Homo sapiens: one gene and its partners. The protein of the gene in region 1 interacts with the protein of each later gene in a pairwise test. Each region holds a gene or a part of one and is shown on either strand. Other genes may lie near its edges. The genes, in order: PCBD1, TFF3 and HNF1B.

Region 1 (2,709 bases):
CAATGAGTATTTCCTTTGGGCATCATGTTGGCATTCAAAAAGTTTCAGATTTTGGATTTCCAATTTTCAAATTAGGGATGTTCAACCTGTAATATGGCCCCAGACTGCCTTTCTAGACATAGGTTCCACAATGCATATAATACCTGTGCCCTTCACACCCTTATCTGTGTTCATGGTGTTCTCTCAGCCATCTCTGCCTCCCAAGAATCCTACCCAGGTCTTCAAGGCATAACTCAAAGCCTCCAGATTTGCCCTTTTCACCATTAATCACTTGCGTTCCCTTTAGCTCATTTCTTATCCTGCCACCTAGCATTAATTCACTCTAGTAATAGTTAATTAGTACTAGTTAATTGGTAATTGGTAATAGTTAATTGTGTTCCTGTTTGATGATAATCAAATGGTATCCCCTAGATGATAATGAATCTGAAGGCAAGGTGGTCTGGTCCCTGTCATTTTCCAGTACCTTGAACAGAGGAAGTGCCTAGCACAGAGGAAGTGCTTTCATTTAAATGCCTATTGACTCCAATTTGGATTGACCTGTGGAAAAGAAGTTTCTAGAGCCTGAGACCAAGTGATATAATAGTTTTATTTGAGACATAAAAACACATGTGTTTCTATTACATAGTGTGGGGTTTAGGGTCCTGGTTTCTAAGACAAGACTTTATTTCACCCTGTATCACAGCTTCCTGGGAAATGAATTAGGGAGCAAGAGACGGCCTGGCAAGAAAATCATTATTGTTGCTGGGAAGTTGCAAAGAAAGGGGAGAGTTTATTCAAATTAGTGTAACAGAGCCCCCAGGATGAAGAGAGTGGTGCAGGGAAAAGGTCTAAATTCCTGGTGTTGGTGGGGACACTGGCACATCCCACAGCAAGGACTCAGCCCTCAACGGCGGCGGCTGGGTCTTGGGAGGGGAGTGGTGGGAGGGTAAGGGCTCCTCAGCTCCCTCCCTGGACTCCCAGTTCAGTCACCCCTTCCCCCGGAAGAATTCAAAGAGGAAGGGCAGGGTCTATGTCATGGACACTGCTACTTGTTCGATGAAGCTGGCCAGGTTTATGTCCCGTTCTGAAAGGCCGGCACACTCATGGGTGCTCAGCGTGATGTGGACCTGAAATGAAACCAGAAATTCTGCTTCCACTGACTTCACTTAAGAACAGGAGGGAGTCACTAGCTGCTGGGCTCAGCCCTGCTAGGAGCTCCAGAATAGCAGCTGGCCAGTACGATCTCTCCTGGGGACTCCTTCCTGACATGTCTGTAACAACATCTTCTACATCTCCCCTTTGCTGTCTCTCAAAAATAATCATGACTTCAGCTATAGAATAAAAGCTTAATATCTGAATGTCAAGAGCAACCTAAAAGCTAAAGACAAAACCAAAAACCAATGCCAACTCCTAAACACTATCCATTCATAGACGACCTCTTCCACCCTTACTGTTTTTATAAACAGAGACCAGCAGAGCTTTTGGCACATGGTAGACATTTAATGACTGTTTCTATTCATTAAGCAAATAATTTGATAGGTTGGCTATGTGTCTGTATTTTTTTTTTTTTTTTTTTTTGAGACGGAGTCTTGCTCTGTCTCCCAGGCTGGAGTGCAGTGGCTCAATCTCTGCTCACTGCAAGCTCCGCCTCCCGGGTTCCCACCATTCTCCTGCCTCAGCCTCCCCAGTAGCTGGGACTACAGGCGTCCACCACCGCGCCCGCCTAATTTTTTTGTGTTTTTAGTAGAGACAGGGTTTCACCATGTTAGCCAGGAGGGTCTTGATCTCCTGACCTCGTGATCTGCCCACCTCGGCCTCCCAAATATGTGTGTATTCTTAGTTCAAGTTTATTACTTTTTCATTCTTCCATACCTCCAGCAAGATTAAAGCCATTTAGAGCTATGAACACTGAATAAGTATGCCTGATTCCCACAGCCTTTCCTTTCTTGGGTTTTGCCTTCTTAATGTCTACTTAAATGTCTACTTTAACCACAACTATCTCATGCATCTTTTAATTTGCATTTCTTTATAGTAAGACTGATTTTTTTTTCCCAGGGGTATTTATGTTGATTCTAGGCATGTGCAATCTCAGTGAGATTGGAAATGAGATGAGTGGATGACCTATGGGTCAGGAAGGCTCATTGTTAAGTCCAAAAGCCTTCAGAATGTGTCAGAGTTCGCAGTATTTGGATGGGGGCAGAGCACAACAGAGGCACACAGCATCACTCACCTTGTTGTACACGTTAAACCATTCAGGATGGTGGTCCAGTTTCTCAGCCTGCAGGGCCACTCTTGTCATGAACCCAAAGGCCTATTTAAGTGGAGTGAGAGCCAGGTTAGTGTTCTAAGAGAAAGGACTTCTGGACATCACCAATTCAAGGCCTAGACGCAGGAGGATGAATTAGCTTCCCCCCAGGAGACTCCTCTATAATCATTTCCCCCTTGACATCCTGTCACTGGTTCTCAGGCTTGAGTTAGAGATTGTCCTTGCAGTAGGAAGAAAGTCTTGCTATTTAGGATGTCAACAAGGTGGAAACACCACAACAGGCTTTTGGCCTGGCCAGTCTTGGCCGTCTGTTCAAATGTCTTCAGATGTGCATGGTTTCCACTTGAACTATCTCCTCAGAAGACTGCTGCTAAAAGTTCCAGGAAGGGAGAGCCCAAGACACATCCTCCTATGGCTCTCCAATCCCCAAAGATGATACTTTCTGAGTTAGACAGGAAAATTAA
Region 2 (3,753 bases), on another chromosome or scaffold:
GCATTGATATTCTCCCCACTCCAGGCAATTTTGAGTGCAGCAGGTGGAGACCACAGCACCTGCAGAAGCTCCTTGCGGGGGTCCTTCCCCAGCAGGTCATGAGGGCCGGAGGGGCAGCAGTCTGTTCCTGGGGTGTTTGCACCCTCCTGGAACTCAGCCCTGCACCACGACCTGGCCTGGCCTCTGGGTACTAGGAGCAGTGGGAAGGCAGGGAGATCTCACCAGATCCCCCAGGGAGATCTCACCAGATCCCCCAGGGATTTCCCCTACAATGACCTTTTTAATAACATGAAAATCCTGCTGTCCATTGATGAACCTGGGTCCGCTGTCTCCCAGAAAAAGTGAGTGCCCCGAAAACAAGGCAGGCAACGCTCTTTCCTTCTTCCTCCTTCGCTGGCCTCAGCGGGAGTGGCACATCAGAGGCCAGGGGCCCTCAAATCCATCCACAAAGGGCGTGCTGAGCGCAAGGGCGGGGCCTGGGAGTCACAGGGCAGGACACATCCTGGTGCTCAGCACGTACGCCATCGAGCTCCCATGGGTCACTCGGGGAAGGGCAGTTTGTGGATGCACCCTTGGAGGCTCAAGGCCGCCCTGCACACACCACCGGGGACCCCAGCTGCAGGCTAAATCCAAGCAGCCAGGCGCTCCCATTTCTCGGGGTGATAAACCAAGTCCACCCTTCAGACAGAGGCTCCTGGAAGGGCCAGTGGGGGTCATCAAAATGCCTCCCTGGAAAAGAAACACGGAGAACACAAAATCTAGGGGCCCGTTTTCCTGGAATGAGATTAGTCTCTTGCCCACTACCAGCCAGTCCACTGCAGGAGGTTGGGGGGTTGGGGGATGCTGCGGATGCCGAGGGCGGAGGCTTAGGGTCCTGGGAGTGGGTTAAATACCAGCTATACCAGGGACACTGGAGTAACCTCTGATAGGCACCGGAAATGTTGAGTCTTAGTTTCTTCCTCTGGAAAATGGATAGAATCATCGCTGTCTCATCTGATATGTTGTTATAAAACAATTCCTGAGATGTAGTCTTTAGTTTTTAAAAGAGCACGCTGGGCAAAGGTGGAGAGTCAGTTCCTGTTTGTGTTAAAAATGTGGCCGAGTGCAGTGGCTCATGCCTGTAATCCTGACACTTTGGGAGGCCAAGGAAGGCAGATCACTTGAGTCCAGGAGTCTGAGACCAGCCTGGCCAACATGGCGACACCTGGTCTCTAAAAAAATACAAAATATTAGCTGGACACATGCCTGTGGCCCAGCTACTTAGGAGGCTGAGGTGGGAGGATCACTTGAGCCCCGCGAGGGCGGGGGTCTCAGTGAGTTGAGATTGTGCCACTGCACTCCAGCCTGGGTAACAGAGCAAGACCCTGTCTCCAAAAAAAAAAAACAAAAAAAAAACAAAAAAAAAACAAAACAAACAAACAAACAAAAACAAACCAAAAAAACGTGCTTAGATCCAGAGAGAAAAATTCTGAAAGGATACCTAAAAAAGTGTTCACAATAGATCAATAGATGCCTCTGGATAGGAAAGGCTCTTTTGTATTATTTGATTTTAAAAATCAATTATGTGTACCATGTTTTTACTAACATATTTTCAATCAATTCATTTCATCCACTTATTAAAATGTAGTTACTAATTTTTAGGGGAGAAAGCAAAAAGGAAAGACAAGGAATCTCTGTGTTTCAGGAGTTGTGAGAGAGCCGCAGGGTCCTGACTCACTCAGAGCTGCCTGTCTCCGAGGCCGATCTGGGATGAAGCAGCCTGGGGCTCTCTTGTCATGGGACCAGGGGTGTTCTGAGGGCTTCTGGCTGGGAGGCTGAGATGGAACGGACACCACACCCTGGTCCTGCCACCCCACATGGCTCCTGCACACTACACCAGGCCAGGCTAGGAGGGCAATTGACACACATCCGCTCCCCAGTAGAGGACCCGGAACCAGAACTGGAATCCGCCCTTACCGCTTGCTGCCAAAACAGTGGGGGCTGAACTGACCTCTCCCCTTTGGGAGAGAAAAACTGTCTGGGAGCTTGACAAAGGCATGCAGGAGAGAACAGGAGCAGCCACAGCCAGGAGGGAGAGCCTTCCCCAAGCAAACAATCCAGAGCAGCTGTGCAAACAACGGTGCATAAATGAGGCCTCCTGGACCATGAAGCGAGTCCTGAGCTGCGTCCCGGAGCCCACGGTGGTCATGGCTGCCAGAGCGCTCTGCATGCTGGGGCTGGTCCTGGCCTTGCTGTCCTCCAGCTCTGCTGAGGAGTACGTGGGCCTGTGTGAGTACTGCCCTGACTGCCCCGGTGGCAGGGTGGGCGTGAAGGGAAGGGATCCAGGATAAGGGGGGATTCTGCATTCATTTAATAATGGCCACCTGTCACATATACACTTTTTCCTGCGCTAGCCCTTTGAAGTGGGTCTTTATTGTCCCCATTTCACAGACAAGGAAACCGAGGCTCAGAGAAAGTTAACAACTTATCCAAGGCAGCCCTGCCCAGTCTGTGTTGAAATCAGGGTTTGAGCCTGAGCCCATCCCCTATGACCCCATAGCCATCTTTGCTGGAGATTTCTAAATTACAATATAGGTCTTTATGCATTGTTCCACATTTACAAAGAAAAAGGAAAGATGCAGGAGAAAAACCCTGACTTCAGAACACTGTCAATACCGGCAGGCACAAGGTTCATTTAGCCATTGCATAGCAACCCTGCCATGGGGTGTGGCTGCTCCATTAACCCAAGTTTGAAGGAATGAGGGCATGGCTTTTATCTGGGTGTCTTCTGAGCAGGGTCAAAGGCAGTGGTTCCCGAACTTGCAGCCCATTAGAATCACCTGGAGAGCTTTAAAAATCCTAATGCTTGGGGCACACCAGTTACATCAGGGCATCTCCAGGCAAGATCCAGGCCTCAGCTGTTTTGTTTTGAGATAGCCTTGCTTTGTCACTCACTGCTGGAGTGCAGTGGCACAATCTCAGCTCACTGCAACCTCCGCCTCCTGGGTTCAAGCAATTCTTGTGCCTCGGCTTCAAGTAGCTGGGATTACAGGCATGCACCACCATGCCCAGCTAATTTTTTGGATTTTTAGTAGAGATGGAGTTTCGCTATGTTGGCCAAGCTGGTCTCAAACTCCTGGCCTCAAGTGATCCTCCTGCCTTGGCCTCCCAAAGTGCTGGAATTACAGGTGTAAGCCACCATGCCCAGCCAACGTCAGTCATTTTTAAAGCTCTGCAGCTGATTCCAGTGTGAGCGAAGTTTGGATGCCAGGAGGATAAGCAATTACGGACTGGGAGCAAGAGAAGGGAATGTAAGACACTGCACGTGATTGCCATTTTCCTAAGGAAATACTCAGTTCGTTAATGAAACGCAGTGAACTTCTGCTGCACATACAGACATAGAGGCTTGCCTGAAACATGAAAATATTGGGGACTGAAGGATGTCCCGGGAGGGTGGGACATGCTCAACAATTCAGGAAGGGGAGATGCAGAAAAAAGTGAAAAGCAGGCAGCATGCGTTGCAATGATCTCTATGGCGTGTGCCTCTCCTGTCACGGTTTTCATTTAAAACAAAGGGGCAAGGTTTTGTTGGTCAAACAATGAAGGGTAACTTTGTTTCTGGGTTCAAGGGACCCCAGATTCCCCAGGGGTTCCTGCCAGCTGGAAGGTACCCAGGTCCGTATGTGACTTCCCGAGAAGGTGATAAGAGCGTGCCAAGGAGAAAGACACTTAGGCAAATGGCCAGAGTCCCCGAGCTGAGCATTTAACAGACTG
Region 3 (3,753 bases), on another chromosome or scaffold:
CATTATTTCCAGGGGAGTATATTCTGGCAATGAGAGAGCGGCCCTAGGATCATCTCAAAAGCGTTTGCTCCTCTGAAAACCCTTAAACCAGATAAGATCCGTGGCAAGAACCAGGATGGTTGGGTTGCCGAGGCAGTGAGGCCCAACCTTTGCTTACCTGACAGCTTGTTTGGAGGAGAGGAGCTGGGCTGGTGGTGGGGGGAGCCGTGGGAGAGCAGAGGGTTCAGGCTGTGAGTCTGGTTGGAGCTATAGGCGTCCATGGCCAGCTTTTGCCGGAATGCCTCCTCCTTCCTGCGGTTTGCAAACCAGTTGTAGACACGGACCTCAGTGACCAAGTTGGAGCCCAGGCCGTGGGCTTTGGAGGGGGACACCCCTCGCTGCAAACATTCTGCCCTGGGAATGGATGGAGGGGAGATGGTGAGTGAGGGGGGGCGGGGGGACTTGTTGGTGCTTGGCCAAAAACACACAATCACAGCAGTCTTGGTTGGGAGTATGAAGGGGCCGTGGGCAGAATGGAAGGCTGGGGAGGAGAGGCCTATGCAGAGAAAAGGCCAATCCATGGAGTGATCTGATGAAGATGGCTGAAGTGGGCCTGAACGCAGGGACAGAGCAGGCTATGCCGCCCTGGGAGTCAGGGGCTTAGGCTCTGGTGTGGCTCTCGAGGAGAAGAGAGCAAGCCGGGGACAGGCAGTCCAGGGGAAGGTCCAGATGGGGCTTCCTTATTTAGCCATTCTTCCCACCACATAAAAGGCAAAGCCCTTCGCTGGCTCTGTCTTGAGTGGCTTCAAAGCACTTCGAGAGGATTTCTGGTCTTTTGGGGCTTGAACTCCCTGAAAGAGTGCCAGGAAGCAAGATGCTTTATCCCCTCCAAAAGGCAGGCTGGGTGGGGTACAAAGCAGGGTGCATTGAGATGGCCAGTCTCTAGCTTTATCAGGGCTGGTGAAACCTCAAAACCAGGTGCGAGAGATTCTTAGACACTACTGGGTGCTGCAAGGCATCTCATTAGTCGGGGTATGGAGCACAGCCTGAGGACTCAGTGGCAATACAGGCCTCCCTGCTTCCCAGCCTGACCTCCCTGGCTGCATTCTTCCCACAGCCAAGGCCAGCCCAGCCCAGAGACAGAGAAAGCGCACACAGGCCTTGGCCAGACCAAAGAGCTGAAGTTTTAGAAAGTCAATACTGGAGTCAGGGAGAACAGGGCAGGAATGAAGTAAAAAGATTTCCCAAGGCTTTCCAATCGTTTAAAAAAAAATAGCTGGGCCCTGTGGCTAGAGCCTGTAATCCCAGCTATTTAGGAGGCCAAGGCAGGAGGATCGCTTAAGCCCAGTTCAAGATCTGCTGGGCAACATAGCAAGACCACATTTTAAAAATAAATACTTAAAATAACACAGAGTTGTTTTTTTGTTTTTTTGTTTTTTTTTTAAATAGAGATAGGGTTTCACCATGTTGCCCAGGCTGGTCTCAAACTCCTGGGCTCAAGCAATCCTCCCGCCTCGGCCTCCCAAAGTGCTGGGATTATAAGTGTGAGCCACCGTGCCTGGCTGGTAGTTAACAAGTAAAAAGAACTCTGTTGAGTCAGCGGGGGCAGAGTGGACTGAACAGATCTGACCAATTCTTACTCTCCTGCCAAGTTTCCTTTTGGACCACTGCATGTCTGACAATTGGTAGAGGCCAGATCTAGAGTCTGTGGCTAAGGGAAAGTTTTACCCTGGCCTGCAGGGAGGTCAAACACACAATTTCGCTTCCCAAGTATCATATTTTAAATTAGCATTCTCCAGAGTATCTTCCCTGGAAGAATAATTCATGGGGTTGTTTGTACTCTACCGAAGATTCCATAGTTAACAACCAATTCAACAAAGCTAAGTGGGTTTCTTGACTGCAGGGCTTCTCGGAACCTTTAATATATGTTGTGACTCTCTAAGGGGAAGTATCCATATGCTGATTCTCAGACTTACTGATTAATGAATTGATATTGGGGTTCTGTGGAACATACTTTGAGAAGCTCTGATTTAGCCACACTTATCTGTATAACTAGTGTCTCAATATCCCAGGACCGAGGGGAGGGTTCCTGGGTCTGTGTACTTGCCCACCTGCCCAGGTGAGCTTCTGGTGGTGTTACCTGTTGCATTCCTCCACTAAGGCCTCTCTCTCTTCCTTGCTGGGGTTCTTTTGCCGATCGTAGGCCTGGTACAAGATTTGCTGGGACGCGGGCCCCCATTTGAACCGGTTGCGGCGCATCTTCTTGTTGGTGGGCTCAGAGCAGGCATCATCGGACTGCCCAGGCCCATGGCTCTGTTGACTGAACTCTGGAAAGAGAAACAGCAGCTGATCCTGACTGCTTTTGTCTGTCATATTTCCAGAACTCTGGACTGTCTGGTTGAATTCTGAAAAGAGAAAGGAGTAGATTTGATAGGGTCTGTAGCCTTCACTCAGCAGACAGACAGACAGACAGACAGACAACGGACGAAGACACCTTTATTCCCCTCGTCTAACTAAGCTTTGCAACCTTCTCTCACTGCATGTGGAGCTGGAGATGGGGAGCCCTCAGCACAGGCCCTTACTGCCCACCTCAGTTGCTCCAGCAAAGCCACCCTTTTCCTTTCTTTGAAGGAGCTCAAACATAGCCAGCTATAGTTTTAAGAAAATTATTATTTTTTCCCCTTTGGCTCACTGGCCTTCAGAGATGAAGCAACACTCTGCATCCTGAACTCCTGTATTTGATGTCAAGTGGGTGAGCTCAATCAAGTCTCACATCCAGGGGAGAACTGCTCAAAGGTACAATTTACACTTGCACAAAATATTCAGAGGCTGTAGATAGCACTCCCCACCTCTCCTCCCTCTTCCTATATCCTAGGTATCTACATTATAAAGTCAGGTTTTTAGAAAAACCCCAAACCTTTTGGAACATGCTTTGAAATAAATATAACTGGAGCTTTGTATTGGAAAAAGAAAATGTGCTTTAGATCTCAAAATAATTTCAAAGACTACAAACACAGGACCTGTCTGGGAGTAGTGTTTAATTAGCTGGAAATGATGCTCCCTGTCTGTCCAATTCCTTGAGTCCAGGCATACTGTGACCATCAGGAGATTTTTGTGGAATGAATGAGAACCAGCAGCTCGGCCCAGAGGTGATGCCTTAGCCCACATGGTTTAATGAGATTTGATATCTACATTACCGAAGAAGAAAGCTTTGCTGTCCTCGTCTTCACATCTGCATGAAGCAGGGCTCATCAGGAGTGATTAATTCCATTTTAAAGATGAATAAACATGGAGGCTAAGCACTCTGCTGAGCAAAGACACGTAATACATTCATCTCCTAGCTCTGGGTCCCTATGTTCTGGATCTTAATATCTTTTTTTTTTTTTTTTGAGACAGAGTTTGCCTCTTGTTGCCCAGGCTGGAGTACAGTGGTGTGATCTCGGCTCACTACAATCTCCGCCTCCCGGGTTCAAACAATTCTCCTGCCTCAGCCTCCTGAGTAGCTGGGATTATAGGTGTGCGGCACCATGCCCAGCTAATTTTTTGTATTTTTAGTAGAGATGGGGTTTCATCATGTTGGGCAGGCTGGTCTCAAACTCCCGACCTCAGGTGATCCACCTGCCTCAGCCTCCCAAAGTGCAGGGATTACAGGTGTGAGCCACCGTGCCCGACCTTGATGACTTTCTTTCTCAGTTCCTGTAATTACTCCCACAGGTCACAGAAAGTGGAAGGCTACCACCTCCCTTTGTGATGTAAATGATGTGCCATCATTTA

The links.
Region 2: the proteins of PCBD1 (region 1) and TFF3 interact in binary tests that used the Homo sapiens proteins (3 or more experiments, as listed by UniProt).
Region 3: the proteins of PCBD1 (region 1) and HNF1B interact in binary tests that used the Homo sapiens proteins (3 or more experiments, as listed by UniProt).

The regions. Positions count from the first base shown.
Region 1 is NC_000010.11:70,882,943-70,885,651, forward strand, and holds the end of PCBD1 (pterin-4-alpha-carbinolamine dehydratase), read right to left. Parts: intron 2,291-2,709; coding exon 2,210-2,290; intron 1,107-2,209; coding exon 1,008-1,106; 3' UTR 568-1,007; downstream 1-567. UniProt on the Homo sapiens protein: Involved in tetrahydrobiopterin biosynthesis. Seems to both prevent the formation of 7-pterins and accelerate the formation of quinonoid-BH2. Coactivator for HNF1A-dependent transcription.
Region 2 is NC_000021.9:42,313,808-42,317,560, reverse strand, and holds the start of TFF3 (trefoil factor 3 precursor), read left to right. Parts: upstream 1-2,151; 5' UTR 2,152-2,186; coding exon 2,187-2,268; intron 2,269-3,753. UniProt on the Homo sapiens protein: Involved in the maintenance and repair of the intestinal mucosa. Promotes the mobility of epithelial cells in healing processes (motogen).
Region 3 is NC_000017.11:37,731,438-37,735,190, forward strand, and holds part of HNF1B (hepatocyte nuclear factor 1-beta), read right to left. Parts: intron 2,385-3,753; coding exon 2,120-2,384; intron 394-2,119; coding exon 158-393; intron 1-157. UniProt on the Homo sapiens protein: Transcription factor that binds to the inverted palindrome 5'-GTTAATNATTAAC-3'. Binds to the FPC element in the cAMP regulatory unit of the PLAU gene. Transcriptional activity is increased by coactivator PCBD1.